Homo sapiens: one gene and its partner. The protein of the gene in region 1 interacts with the protein of each later gene in a biochemical or structural test. Each region holds a gene or a part of one and is shown on either strand. Other genes may lie near its edges.

Region 1 (7,023 bases):
GTTGTGTTACCCAATGTATACTATGTGCCTATTCCATTTCTTAAAATACATTAGATGCTATTTTCAGAATAAACAAATGAACATAAGAATAACCTGGAAGAACTTAAAGATTCCTAAGCTTCCAGTCCCATACATGTCCAGCTATCTACAGACCTCCCTGTCACTTCAAATAAAACACTATGAGATCTTGATATAAAAATTAACACTCCAGGGATTCTGATTAAATAAATCTCAAAATCTGTATTTTTAGCCTACATTACAGGTTACTGCTGGAACAGCTGACAGAATTTACATCCCATCCCCTCATTCTATATGAACTCAGCCACATTTGTCTATCCCCAAGACTATGGTTCCTCTGCCAGTAGTTACCTGGAGCAATCATAATGTCTTTCTCTCTCATAAATTCCCAAGTAAAATTACTCTCAATAAGTGAGAAAAGTAAGTGTTGCCAGCCCTATACTTTATTCCCAACATTTTCTTCCATTAAATGCCTTTATATTTTTCCTTCTTTCAATACTGATTTGAAGCTTGCTTTGAAATTCTGAGTAAATGTTGTTAGGTGGGTTACTGAAAGGAGAAAAAATGCTTGGTAGCTAAAAAGTAACTGTTTTCATGACACACACACACACACACACACACACACACAGAACCCAAGAGGCCCTAGTACAAACCATCTATTCTTTTCCCCAATTGCCAACATACACAATATACAAAGTACCACATATAAGTTGCCTTCTTAAAAATACTCAGAATAGAAAAAAATTGTTTCTCATACTTAGACGACATCTATTCACTGAGAATACAGAATATCAGGGCAAAACACTGCTCATAATCAGGCAAGAGAAAGAAAATGCATCCAAATAGGAAGTCTGTTTGCAAACAATATGATTCTATACCTAGAAAACCCCATAATCTCTGCCCAAAAGCTCCTTGATCCAATAAACTTCAGCAAAGTTTCAGGATATAAAAATCAATGTACAAAAGTCAGAAGCATTTCTAGACACCAACAACATCCAAGCTGCAAGCCAAATCAAGAATGCAATCCCATTTACCAAAGCCACAAAAAGAATAAAATACCTAGGAATACAACTAACCAGGGAGGTGAAAGATCTCTACAATGAGAATTACAAAAAACACTGCTCAAAGAAATCAGAGATGACACCAACAAATGAAAAAACATTCTATTTCATGGCAGGAAGAATCAATATTGTTAAAATGGCCATACAGCCCAAAGCAATTCACAGATTCAATGCTATTCCTACCAAACTACCAATGGCATTCTTCACATAATTAAAAAAAAACTATTTAAAAATTCATATGAACCCAAAAAAGAGCCTGAATAGCCAAGGCAATCCTAAGCAAAAAGAACAAAACTGGAGGAATCACTTTACCCAACTTCAAGCTATACTGTTAATACAAGGTTACAATCACAGCATGGTACTGGTATACAAACAGACACAGAGACCAATGGAACAGAAAAGAAAGCCCAGAAGTTAGGCCGCACACCTAACAAGTAAACAAAAACAAGCAATGGGGAAAGGACTCCCTATTCAATAAATGGTGCTGGGATAACTGGCTAGCCACATCCAAGATTGAAACTGCACCCCATCCTTACATGATGTACAAAAATCAACTCAGAATGGATTAAAGACTTAAATATAAAACTTAAAACTGTAAAAACTCTGCAAGATAACCTAGGAAATACCATTCTGGACATAAGACCTGGCAAAGATTTCATGACGAAGATGCCAAGAGAAGTTGCAACAAAAACAAAAACTGACAAATGGGACAGTATAAAGAGCTTCTGCGCAGCAAAAGAAATCAACAGAGTAAACAGACAACCTACAGAATGGGAGAAAGTACTGGCATGGGAGAAAGTACTGGCAAACTATGCATCTGACAAAGGTCTAATATCCAGAGTTTACAATAAACTTAAATTAACAAGCAAAAAAGAACAACCCCATTAAAAAGTGGGCAAAGGACATGAACAGACACTTTTCAAAAGAAGACATACAAGTGGCCAAGAAACATATGAAGAAAAGCTCGACATCACTGATCATTAGAGAAATGCAAATCAAAACCACAATGAGATACCGTCTCACACCAGTTAGAATGGCTACTAATAAAAAGTCAAAAAATGACAGATGCTGGTGAGGTTGCTGAGAAAAGAGAATGCTTATACACTGCTGGTGGGAAAGTAAATTAGTTCAGCCATTGTGGAAAGCAATTTGGTGATTTCTCAAAAAACCTGACAGAATTACCATTCAATCCAGCAATCCTATTATTAGGTATATGCCCAAAGAAAAAGAAATCTTTTTACCATAAAGACACATGCATGCATATGTTCACTGCAGCATTATTCACAATAGCAAAGATATGGAATTAACCTAAATGCCCATCAATGGTAGACTAGATAAAGAAAATGTGGTACATATATACTATGGAATACTAAGCAGCCATAAAAAAATACCAAGATGTCTTCCTCAGCAACATGGATGGAGCTGGAGGCCATTATCCTAAGCAAACTAACATAGGAATAGAAAACCAAATACCACATGTTCTCACTTATAAGTGGGAGGTAAACACTGAGTACACACGGGCACAAAGAAGGGAACAACAGACACTGGGGCCTACTTACGGGTGGGAGGTAAAGAACTGAAAAACTACCTATTGGGTACAATACTTACTGCCTGGGTGACAAAATAATCTGCACACGAAACCCCTGTGACATGCAATTTACCTATATAACAAGCCTGCACATTACCCGGAACCTAAAAGTTAAAACAAAACAAAAACTGCTCATGAGCATCTACTAATAAAGCAATCACTTTACATAAAACTGTACTATATTAGAATTTGTCTTTTCTCCTATAAATTCACAGCTCTGTTAGCAAATCTTAGGTTTACTCAAAACTGAAATTACAAACAAATTTTATTAAGCAAAACATATGCCATCATTTTTGATGGATAATAAGAACTCTACCTAAACTAGCCTTAAATATTTAGCTACAATCCAGATGACAGGTACTCTGAATGTAAATCTTGGCTGCAAACTGAATAGGACCATTTATTTTCAGTAGTTAAAGTTCTACCACCTTTTCCTAAGAAAAGTAATCTAATTAGAACTGCAGATGCTATACACAAGACTCAGAATAGATACATATACTTACCAGCTTCTACAATAGCCGGCTTATTACTAGAGCAGACAGATAGCACCTTCAGCACTCTGCTTGTGGTCCACAGTAGTTTTTCGTAAGTATAGGTCCTCATTATATTTACTAAAGCTTGGGGTCCACCACTAGCCAGTATGATGAGCTAGAAAGATATATATATATATCTTGTTAGTCAAGGAATCTTGATCACATGTCTGAGAAGAGCCATATTACCAACCTATTTTATTATACAAGAATTTCAGCCAGCTTGCCATTGGACCTAAATGTATTCCTGGACCCCATCACTCAGACCCCCATACTGGGGCCCTATCCAACTTGTCCTTTTAAAGCATTCCACTCAAATTCAGACATCCCAGTCCTCCAAACAATGTATCAGTTTGGGCCCAATTTCCTTCTTCCCACAGTGATCACACCAAAAGAAAAAAATTTAGAAACTATGTTGGTAGGCAAGAGTAATGCCCTAAGATGAAAGTTATATCAAAACTGATTCACTGAAAATTTGAACCAGAACTGGCACTTAACTCCTCATCATTTGGCCCTTTAATTTTCCTAATTATATCCACCTTAAAAACAGATACCATAAAATGATCATTCATGCTTGTCCTTTCATTCCCTGTATATCTTCCCTTTCAACACTGCCCCAATTTTCTAAAAACAAATTTCATCATTTCAGGCTTCTGCTGAAATTTCCCATTGTGCTTTTAAACATGCTCTACAAAGCCCTATGAGATCTGCTAAGTCTATCTCAATAGCCTCACCTCAAACCTTTCTTCCTCCTTACTATTAGTATTTCTTAAATTCCCAAAACTTTCCATCTCCTTCCTTCGTTTCAAAGATGTTGTTTTCTCACCTAACCTTCACCTAGTGAATCCCTTCTCATCCTTGAACACTGAACTCAACTATCACTTCCTCCAAGAGGTCTCCTTGAACCCTCAAAAAGAGTCAGTTTCAACTTGTGTTATGTGCCCTCATAGCCCCACTTCTTCCCACTACACAAATTAAATATTAGGTTATTATTCCCAACATCTACATCCCACCTAAGAACAAAAGTGTGAAGAGAAGCTTGCCTACCATATCCCTACTACTTCGCATAGTGCTTTACATATGGAAACTCAAAAATTTAAAAGAACAGAAATGAACTGGGCTGCACAGCAGGAGGTAAGTGGCAGGTGAGCGAGCATTACCTGGCTTGAGCTCTACCTCCTGTCAGATCAACTGCACCATGAGAGTCTCATAGGAGTAGAAACCCTAGTGTGGACTGCACATGCGAGGGATCTAGGCTGCACGCTCCCTATGAGAATCTAATGCCTGATTATCTGAGGTGGAATGGTGTCATCCAGAAACCATTCCCACAACCCATTCATGGAAAAACTGTTTTCCACGAAACTGGTCCCTGGTGCCAAAAAGGTTAGGAACACTGCATGGAATGACATGACACTGGAGGTGTCCAATGCTCCATGAAAACCACATAAAGAATAATTCTCTTACCTTGCTTTCTTGGTTGCCATAAGCTAAAATTTGAAGGCAGTCTGTCGTAATAGCCAAGAATTTAACATTTGTTTTGTTGAGCAAGGCAACCATTTTCTGCAGCCCACCAGCTAAACGCACTGCCATTTTAGCTCCTTCTTGATGTAATAAAAGGTTGTGGAGAGTTGTAATGGCATAAAACAACACAGAATCCACTGGTGAACTGGGAAGAAGAAAAAAGCCTCATCAGAAATATTGTGAGTATACTCTTCTACTTTTTAGCTTCAAGCATTCTGACATGTTTTCTTACCCAAGCATTTTCACCAGGGCAGGAATGCCTCCAGACTTAAAGATGGCCAGTAAGCCCTCACGATGATGGGAAAGGTTATGCAAGGTCCCAGCGGTACAACGAGCTGTTTCTACATCATTTGTATTCTGCATGGTACGTACAATAGCAGACACCATCTGAGGAGAACGCATGATAGCGTGTCTGGAAGCTTCCTTTTTAGAAAGCTGATGGACCATAACTGCAGCCTTATTAACCACCACCTGTAATACAGGAATTCAGAAACATCGTTAGTTTTCAAGTACTGGTATTGGGTAGACATTCTGAAACTACTCCCCTTGAGCATTTACTTCAAAGCAGACTAAAAAGCTAGCTATGTCATTGCTTACCTGGTCCTCGTCATTTAGCAGTTTTGTCAGTTCAGGGATTGCACGTGTGGCAAGTTCTGCATCATCTTGATAGTTAATCAAGTTTACAACTGCATGTTTCAGCATCTGTGATGGTTCAGCCAAACGCTGGACATTAGTGGGATGAGCAGCATCAAACTGTGTAGATGGGATCTGCATGCCCTCATCTAATGTCTCAGGGAACATAGCAGCTCGTACCCTCTGAGCTCGAGTCATTGCATACTGTCCATCAATATCTGGAAAAGGTTAATTCAACACTCACTATCCACAGTTCAGCATTTACCTAAGTATTTGCTATCCTAAATGGTAAAAGTGACATTGCTATTACTCTCTTTTCTTCACCACAACATTTTATTTAAACTATTATACACTAACTTTTTAGTTCTCAAAACTGCATTCTGACTTTCAGTAAGGCAATGAAAAATAATACTCTTACCAGCTACTTGTTCTTGAGTGAAGGACTGAGAAAATCCCTGTTCCCACTCATACAGGACTTGGGAGGTATCCACATCCTCTTCCTCAGGATTGCCTTTACCACTCAGAGAAGGAGCTGTGGTAGTGGCACCAGAATGGATTCCAGAGTCCAGGTAAGACTGTTGCTGCCAGTGACTAACAGCCGCTTTTCTGTCTGGTTCCATGGCCATGTCCAACTCCATCAAATCAGCTATAAATACGAAACAGTATTAGCATTAGTAGATTGGAAATGTTACTTTAATTTAAAAAAAAAGAATCTGTGATATGACCCATTGAAATATTTTTAGAAATAAAGTCAAATCTGAAAGACAGCCAAGAAAAGCAGAATGATAGCCAGGGTTAGCTCAGTGATGAAATACCTAATCCCTTAGGGAACCACCTAACAGTTACTCACTGAATCAGTGGAAGAATGGTACTGCATCCAGGCTCCAGAAGCAGTCATCCAGACTAGATTCCTGCTGGTGGCTTGTTTGCTATTTCACCAAGCCATTAGGAGGAGTGAGCAGAAAATGGAGCAAAAGGTAGCCTGACAAGTAAGCAGGGAGAGAGGAAAGCAGGGGGATCTCAGCCAGACTGGCTTAATGGCAACGAAGCAGAGCCCCAATTCAGTAACTAAAGATTTAATGACACAAACCTTGAGTAGCCATTGTCCACGCTGGATTTTCAAAACAGTTGTATGGTATACTTCAAATACCCTAAAAAAAGTTAATCAAAAGTCATTAGGATTTAAATTTAGCTTGATTAATACTCCTAAGTCACTGGGATACCTGTTAAATGTCACTATTACACCCACAAAAAAAACCCATATCCTCTTTTACCAGGTTAGTGAAACGCAGACCTCATGGTCTCCTCCAGACACCTCAACCACAGCTCCATCACTGCTGAACTTCAGTGAAAACTCCTCCTTACCAAAAATGTCTTTTTATTAATAGTATAAATATTAATTATAGATATTCAGGATGGTGATGAAAAAGCACAGAGTTGTAATAATAAAAGCCAGGGAGGGGAAAACACTATTCAAAAATCAGCTGCTCTCTGAATTCCTAAAGGTCTCTCCTTTTTTAACCTTTCACAGAAAAATTCACAGATCCCCTTTGGATAACAGAGGTACAGTGGGATTTTAAAAACTCCACATTTTCTTTAACAAGTTGTTTTCTGATATAGTGCCATCAAAAATTATTTTTCATAAAGCAAATTTTGGTGACTAGAATAGCGA
Region 2 (7,384 bases), about 79 Mb from region 1:
GAAGTGATGGAAAGTAATTTACCTCCCCTCTTCTTTCTTCATCTTCAAATCCTACTACTCCTCCTTTAAGATCACTTTAGATTGAAGTGTCCTCCACTCACCTATTATAAATAGGAATGCATGGGCAATTTATTTTAAACTTTGTAGTAACAACCATATTAACAAATTATAGGCCAGGCATGGTGACTCACGCCAGTAATCCTAGCGTTTTGAGAAGCCATGGCACGCAGATTTTGAGCCCAGGAGTTTGAGACCAGTCTGGGCAACATGGCGAAACCCCATTTATACAAAAAATACAAAAATTAGCTGGGTGTGGTGGTGCACCCTTGTAGTCCTAGCTACTTGGGGGGCTGAGGCAGCAGGATCCCTTGAACCTGGGAGGTTGAGGCCGCAGCACTCCAGCCTGGAGGACAAAGTGAGACCCTGTCTCAAAAAAATAAATAAAAACCAAATTATGTTCTGTCTCATAACTTTTATCAATTCAAAATGTGATTTTTATAATTTATTTAACTTTTCATGTAGTTGCTTCCCTAGAGGGTAAACTCCCAAAGGACACTGATCCTCTCATCCACCTTATATCAGATGCCTAGCAGGTGTCTCAAATATAATACTTACTCACTATTGTCTAGTTTTACTATTTTAACTTATATGACAAAGGATTATCATAAAAATTTTCGTTGGAAAGCTTTGCTGAGAAATGTGAATTTTTTTTAAGAATTCCATTGTAATTAGAGGCTTCTGAGGGACATGTGAATCATAGTGAAGAAATAATATAAATGTTATTTTTTGGGCCAATTCCCCTTAAAATCAAACACAGAGGTGGGGTACAGTGGCTTACACCTGTAATCCCAGCTACTTAGGAGGCTGAGGTGGGAGGACTGCTTGAGCCCAGAAGTTCAAGGCCATAGTGAGCTATGACTGTGCTACTGCACTCCATCCTGGATAACAGTGAGATTAAAAGATAAATAAAAGTAAAAAAATAGAAATTTATTATAAAAATACTAAGCAAAGACATTTAAATATTTTCATTTATATTTAAATATGTTATTGACGAGTTATTCTAATTTGTCTTCCTTTCCAATCTTGATCCAAATGTACTTATATTTTACAGATTGGAAATATGGTAGATATACAACCTGAAGTTCTATATTTTTCAATTAGTATTGTTTCCTAAACATATTTCTGAGTTACTTTTGGTGGTTGTATTTATTTTTACTGGCTGCCTAATATGGAGTTAATACAGCATAGTTTACTTTACTCCTCTATTATCCTGTGATATTTTCCTTTATTTTCTCTTGGCCCACATCTTAGACATTACATAATTTCAAACTATCTCAAGGTCTCCAAATACCTTGTTAAACATTTCAGCCATTGCATAACCTTTTCTCTTTGCCTGGAATGTTCTTTCCTTCCTTATCCATCTGTACAACTGTACAACTATTCTTTGTCTAAACTAGTGGTTCATAAACTTTTTTTTTTTTTTTTTTTTTGAGACGGAGTTTTGCTCTTGTTGCCTTGGCTGGAGTGCAATGGTGCGATCTCAGCTCACTGCAACCTCCACCTCCTGGGTTCAAGCAATTATCCTGCCTCAGCCTCCCAAGTAACTGGTATTATAGACGCCCGCCACCACGCCCAGCTAAGTTTTAAAGTTTTAGTAGAGACGGGGTTTCACCATGATGACCAGGCTAGTCTTGAACTCCTAACCTCAGGCGATCCACCTGCCTCGGCCTCCCAAATTGCTGGGATTACAGTCATAAGCCACCACTCCTGGCTTGTCCATAAACTCTTGATCTTGAGCTAACATGATATGCACATTATAAGATACACACAGAAATAAAAAAAGGATTAAAGGTGCACTATTTTAAAGATAAATTTCAACCGGCCCGGTGTGGTGGCTTACGCCTGTAATCCTGACACTCTGTGAGGCTGAGGCAGGCAGATCACCTGAGGTCGGGAGTTCGAGACCAGCCTGACCAACATGAAGAAACCCCGTCTCTACTAAAAATACAAAAGTAGCTGGCATGGTGGCACATGCCTGTGATCCCAACTACTTGGGAGGCTGAGGCAGGAGAATCACTTGAATCGGGGAGGCGGAGGTTGCGGTGAGCCGAGATCGCGCCACTGCACTCCAGCCTGGGCAACAAGAGTGAAACTCCGTCTCAAAAATAAATAAATAAATAAAGATACATTTCAATTATTTAAGGTCCCAAACCATTTTGTTTTCACCCTCCTACTGCTATCGGGCCCCTAACAATTATTAACACTTTTTCCAATGCCTCATTGGCCAAGGGATGTTTTTAGGTTGGCCTGCAGGGTTTGAAAATTTGGTTACCAACATTTAAAAATGCAGAGATTTCACACAAAAATCCAATTTTGGGGTTTCTTTTGGGAGGAAAAAAATTGAACATCTGAGAACACTGGACCCACATTCCTGAGGGCAACAATCTGCTAGAGTTGAGCAGCTGTTCCTTTTAGTTATGGCATGGATATTCCAATTTGCCATTTTCCCTATCATTCCCCATTGTCTTACACAAGGCCAGTCTCACTCATTTGCTTTACTTGTCTGGCCTCTGTAGCCATTTGAATCTGCAAACACTATCTAGACCTTTCCTGTCTTCCATCAAAGCTTACTTTGTTCTGTCCCAAGTCCTTCATCAGTGTTTCAAAGCAAGAGCCAGGTAATCTGATCAAATATAGGTCCTTTAACATGTGCTTTCTGGAGACAGCATCTTAACAGAAAGAGATGACTCTGCAGGTAGAAATTACAGGCACCACTGGATTACAATCAGGATGGCAACTGTCTGTTCTACTTTCTCTGTTATCTTGACGTAGCCATACCTCACTGTTCTAAAGCAGACCAAAGGAACTGGTTCTATGGTAGAACAATGGACGCTGGTCTTATGTATGAAATCTTCTCAAGCTGCACTTTTATAGATCACCCTAGTTCCAAAAGATCCAAAGCTACCACGGGCTCCTCTGACCCCCCCATTTCCTCGGAGGCTTCAGGATATCCGGCCTGACGGCATTTCCCCTCACCTGCTTTCGGGGCCCGTTTTGCGCTGGGCAGTTGCGCCCAAGGAGCGCGCGCATCCAGCATGAGCTCATTTCTCATGGGCGTTTCCAGAGGCCCGGCCGGGCCGCGCACACCAAGCGCAGCAAGCCTCTGTATCAATGGCCCCCGCGGCTGGGCGGGGCGCGGCCGCCCAAAGGCGCTGCCTTTCTGGAAGCTTTGTTCCCATTTTAGCGTCTGAGAGCTTGCAGCCGGCTGGGAAGGCCCCCTTGGTCCGTCTGGCCCTTTCGGGGAAGAGGCCAACACTCGGCACACGCGATCCACGGCAGAGGGGAGCCTTGGGCGCGCAGAATTGGCTGCGCCCCGCCGAGAGCCTCCTGTGGGTGGGGAGAGCCCCTCCACCCCTCTGCTCGCTTGAGCGCTCAGAGCCCAGGGCCGCCGACCGCAGCACTTTCCGATTTGCTGCACCGAGGGCCCGCGGTCCCTGTGTGCGGTTTCCACCGTTGTTGGAGGCGGCCGCAGGCGAACCGTCGGGTCGTCAGCCACGACCCGAGTCAGGCATCTCCCCGCTCCTGGGACCGGGGCCGAAGGCCAATCACACTGCAGCTAGGTCTTGCGATTGGACGGCAGTGAGAGCCGATTGGCCGCCGCCGCGAGTTTCGGGCTCCCTCCCTCTCCCTTTTGCCCCAACTCCAGCGCCTAAGCTTCAGGCCAATGAGACAGCGCTTTATAGACGCCCTCCCTTCGCTTTCTTCTCCCCACCTTGGAGAGGGAGGGGAAGTCCTGACTGGCCAGACTGTCCTCGGAAGCCCCCTTCTCTTCACCAATCACCGAAGGAGGTACGCTCCCAGCGGAGTTTTCCAGCCAATCACAAAGCGGCGGCGGCGCCCAGCCGTGCAGTTTCACCAGCGTCTCTGGGTTTCACCGTCCTCAACTCTTCAAGCCTCTTCGTAAGGGCCGGCGACTCTGATTGGCCACTGTTGCCATTGTCGAATGTCTCCTCCAGCCAGCCACCGAACAAGGCGAATTCACCCTTTCCGTTCGGCTACCTTCGGCATTTTCCGCTCTTTGGGCGTGGCTTCCCAGCGTCACTTTCTAATTGGTTTCTCAGGCTGATCGGCTTTTTCCGGGAGGAGCCGCAAACAAACGACGTCCGTGATTGGCTCCGTTCGGGCTTCGGCTCCCAGCCGAAGCGGGCGAGCGTGGGGCTCGGCCGGCGATTCCCAGACGCCTGTTACGCGGGCGGCGGGGCGCTGGGCGGTGTAAGGCTGGGTGGGGGAGGAAGGAGGTGGAGGACGAGTAGGAGGGGGGAGGAGGAGTGGGGAAGTGCAAGGCGGCTGCGCAGACAGCGCTCCTCACACAGAGCAGCTCCTGACCCGGGCGAATGCGGGCTTGTGCCGCCGCCGCCGCCGCCGCCGCCCGGGCCAAGTGACAAAGGAAGGAAGGAAGCGAGGAGGAGCCGGCCCCGCAGCCGCTGACAGGGCTCTGGGCTGGGGCAAAGCGCGGACACTTCCTGAGCGGGCACCGAGCAGAGCCGAGGGGCGGGAGGGCGGCCGAGCTGTTGCCGCGGACGGGGGAGGGGGCCCCGAGGGACGGAAGCGGTTGCCGGGTTCCCATGTCCCCGGCGAATGGGGAACAGTCGAGGAGCCGCTGCCTGGGGTCTGAAGGGAGCTGCCTCCGCCACCGCCATGGCCGCTGGATCCAGCCGCCGCCTGCAGCTGCTCCTGGCGCAATGAGGAGAGGAGCCGCCGCCACCGCCACCGCCCGCCTCTGACTGACTCGCGACTCCGCCGCCCTCTAGTTCGCCGGGCCCCTGCCGTCAGCCCGCCGGATCCCGCGGCTTGCCGGAGCTGCAGCGTTTCCCGTCGCATCTCCGAGCCACCCCCTCCCTCCCTCTCCCTCCCTCCTACCCATCCCCCTTTCTCTTCAAGCGTGAGACTCGTGATCCTTCCGCCGCTTCCCTTCTTCATTGACTCGGAAAAAAAATCCCCGAGGAAAATATAATATTCGAAGTACTCATTTTCAATCAAGTATTTGCCCCCGTTTCACGTGATACATATTTTTTTAGGATTTGCCCTCTCTTTTCTCTCCTCCCAGGAAAGGGAGGGGAAAGAATTGTATTTTTTCCCAAGTCCTAAATCATCTATATGTTAAATATCCGTGCCGATCTGTCTTGAAGGAGAAATATATCGCTTGTTTTGTTTTTTATAGTATACAAAAGGAGTGAAAAGCCAAGAGGACGAAGTCTTTTTCTTTTTCTTCTGTGGGAGAACTTAATGCTGCATTTATCGTTAACCTAACACCCCAACATAAAGACAAAAGGAAGAAAAGGAGGAAGGAAGGAAAAGGTGATTCGCGAAGAGAGTGATCATGTCAGGGCGGCCCAGAACCACCTCCTTTGCGGAGAGCTGCAAGCCGGTGCAGCAGCCTTCAGCTTTTGGCAGCATGAAAGTTAGCAGTGAGTATTGGTTTTATTTTACACCCCTTTTCCACCTCGCCCTTAAAATAAGAAACCTCGAAATACCAGGATCTGAAATTATTAGACCTCCTGATAAACAGGCAATGGAAAAGGGCAAAACCTATCTTCAGTCAAGGATGAAGCAGCTCCCTTTTTACTCCTCCCATACCCCCTCCCCCGGTCTCATTAACCTTGAATTGAGATAATATGATATTTATTTGGATGATTCGATTTCAAACTGCTTTCTTGTACTTTTCTTGCTGTTGGTAGTCAGTTTCATCAAGTGCTCGAGTGTTTCCACGTTAAAGTAGTGATGACAGTGTTTACTTGCCCATCCTTTAGAATAAAGAGAAGGACAAGATTTGATTACTAAACCATTATGCACATTTGCAGAATTTTTGGAATTTGGAATGAGAGAATATTTTAGGTCTCAGGGGTTATCATAGTTTGATATACTTAATAGAGACGTTAAATGTCCCACCCTCCCAACATTTTTTTCTTGTTTGTATGACTACACATAATATTTGTTCTTAATCTGTGGATGAACTTCCTCAGTAACCATTCACATTTGGAGGCTGCCATTGATTTCTCTCTTTAGAAGGGACTAGTGGGAGCCAATAAATACCTAGCAGCAGTAACATCTCTGTATGCATTTGTGTTCAATTGGATAAGTGGTTTGATGTGTTATCTCTTAACCTTCCTGTTTTGACATTACCAACCTGCCACCGTATAATTTATGTTTAATCAAAAGTTAACTTGGAAGTATTAATAGGTCCAAGTTTTGATTGAGATTTGTTTTGTCATAGTGCCAAATACTAAGTTAAATGTTGTCACTGGCTCATTACATTTAAGTTCAATTTTGGAGTGCTACTGCATTCATTACCTGTTAAATGTTCTGGCGGGTTCCTTAAAAAGGACGATTTAAAACACTCTAGCGTTAGTTTCCATCATATTTAGATAACTGTGGATTTAGTTAGAAGAATGTGGATTTAGTCCTTTCCATTTTGGCTTTTGCAGATGGCTATGGTCCTAGAAATAATAGGGATATTTGGGCTGTGTTCAGGGTTGTGGATAGACTACTCTTGTCCTGGGTTTGTGCTGAAAAGTATGCTCTTGAAGTGTTTAATATATACTAAGTATCTAATGTTCCAGTGTATCTCTATTTATGGAGAAGTTCATGTGGTATTTAATGATAGCTTGTTTAAACATACTTGCAGAATTTAACAAAAATATCTATATTGTTTCCTTATTGTGGGAAAGAGGGGCATCATGAGGGCAAAGACAAATTAATTTGTTGCCTAGAAGAACTGAGAGAACTAAAGAACTGAGATTTTAAGAACCCACACACACGCAAAACATGATGTTATGTGAAATTGATTATATTCTTAGGCAACATAAAATGATCACTTTTAGTTGAACTCAAGATTTCAATTCATGTTGGCTTTGGGAACTAGCCTGAAACAGGGTAGTCTAGGTAATAGCTGAATGGGAGATAATTTTTGAAAGTTAATTTTTTTTTTTTCTTGTGGCTTGCAAGTAGAGAATGCCCGGGTAGGTAAAGAGGAAAGCTGATTATGCATCTTTCAGGGAAGGGTCGTGCTTTCTAAGCACTTCATGGAGTGATTTGAAAAATATTTTAAAATTCCGGGGTAATTTTCAGCTATGATGATACAAATCTTATAATAGCTACTTAAGAGCCTCTTGTGGTACTGGAGTGTTTGTATGTTTTACATCTTGGTAATATAGTTTGAAAATCAGTCAGTCTATTTCAGCTAATTGATTTATTAGCTTTATTTCAGAGATCTGTAATGCTAGATTATAATGCTACATTTTGGGACTTTTCATTTTCTTTTCAGGATTTTCTTTGAAAATGACTCTTGAATTCTTGGTAATACAGATACTAACTAAGGATGGAG

The links.
Region 2: of the proteins of CTNNB1 (region 1) and GSK3B, one has a biochemical effect on the other in vitro, tested with the Homo sapiens proteins (11 studies listed by BioGRID and IntAct).

Annotation. Positions count from the first base shown.
Region 1 is NC_000003.12:41,223,500-41,230,522, reverse strand, and holds part of CTNNB1 (catenin beta-1), read right to left. Parts: intron 6,503-7,023; 5' UTR 6,455-6,502; coding exon 6,442-6,454; intron 6,334-6,441; exon of another isoform or gene 6,202-6,333; intron 5,998-6,201; coding exon 5,770-5,997; intron 5,570-5,769; coding exon 5,316-5,569; intron 5,190-5,315; coding exon 4,951-5,189; intron 4,864-4,950; coding exon 4,662-4,863; intron 3,316-4,661; coding exon 3,171-3,315; intron 1-3,170. UniProt on the Homo sapiens protein: Key downstream component of the canonical Wnt signaling pathway.
Region 2 is NC_000003.12:120,091,431-120,098,814, reverse strand, and holds the start of GSK3B (glycogen synthase kinase-3 beta), read left to right. Parts: upstream 1-4,367; 5' UTR 4,368-5,380; coding exon 5,381-5,468; intron 5,469-7,384. UniProt on the Homo sapiens protein: Constitutively active protein kinase that acts as a negative regulator in the hormonal control of glucose homeostasis, Wnt signaling and regulation of transcription factors and microtubules, by phosphorylating and inactivating glycogen synthase (GYS1 or GYS2), EIF2B, CTNNB1/beta-catenin, APC, AXIN1, DPYSL2/CRMP2, JUN, NFATC1/NFATC, MAPT/TAU and MACF1.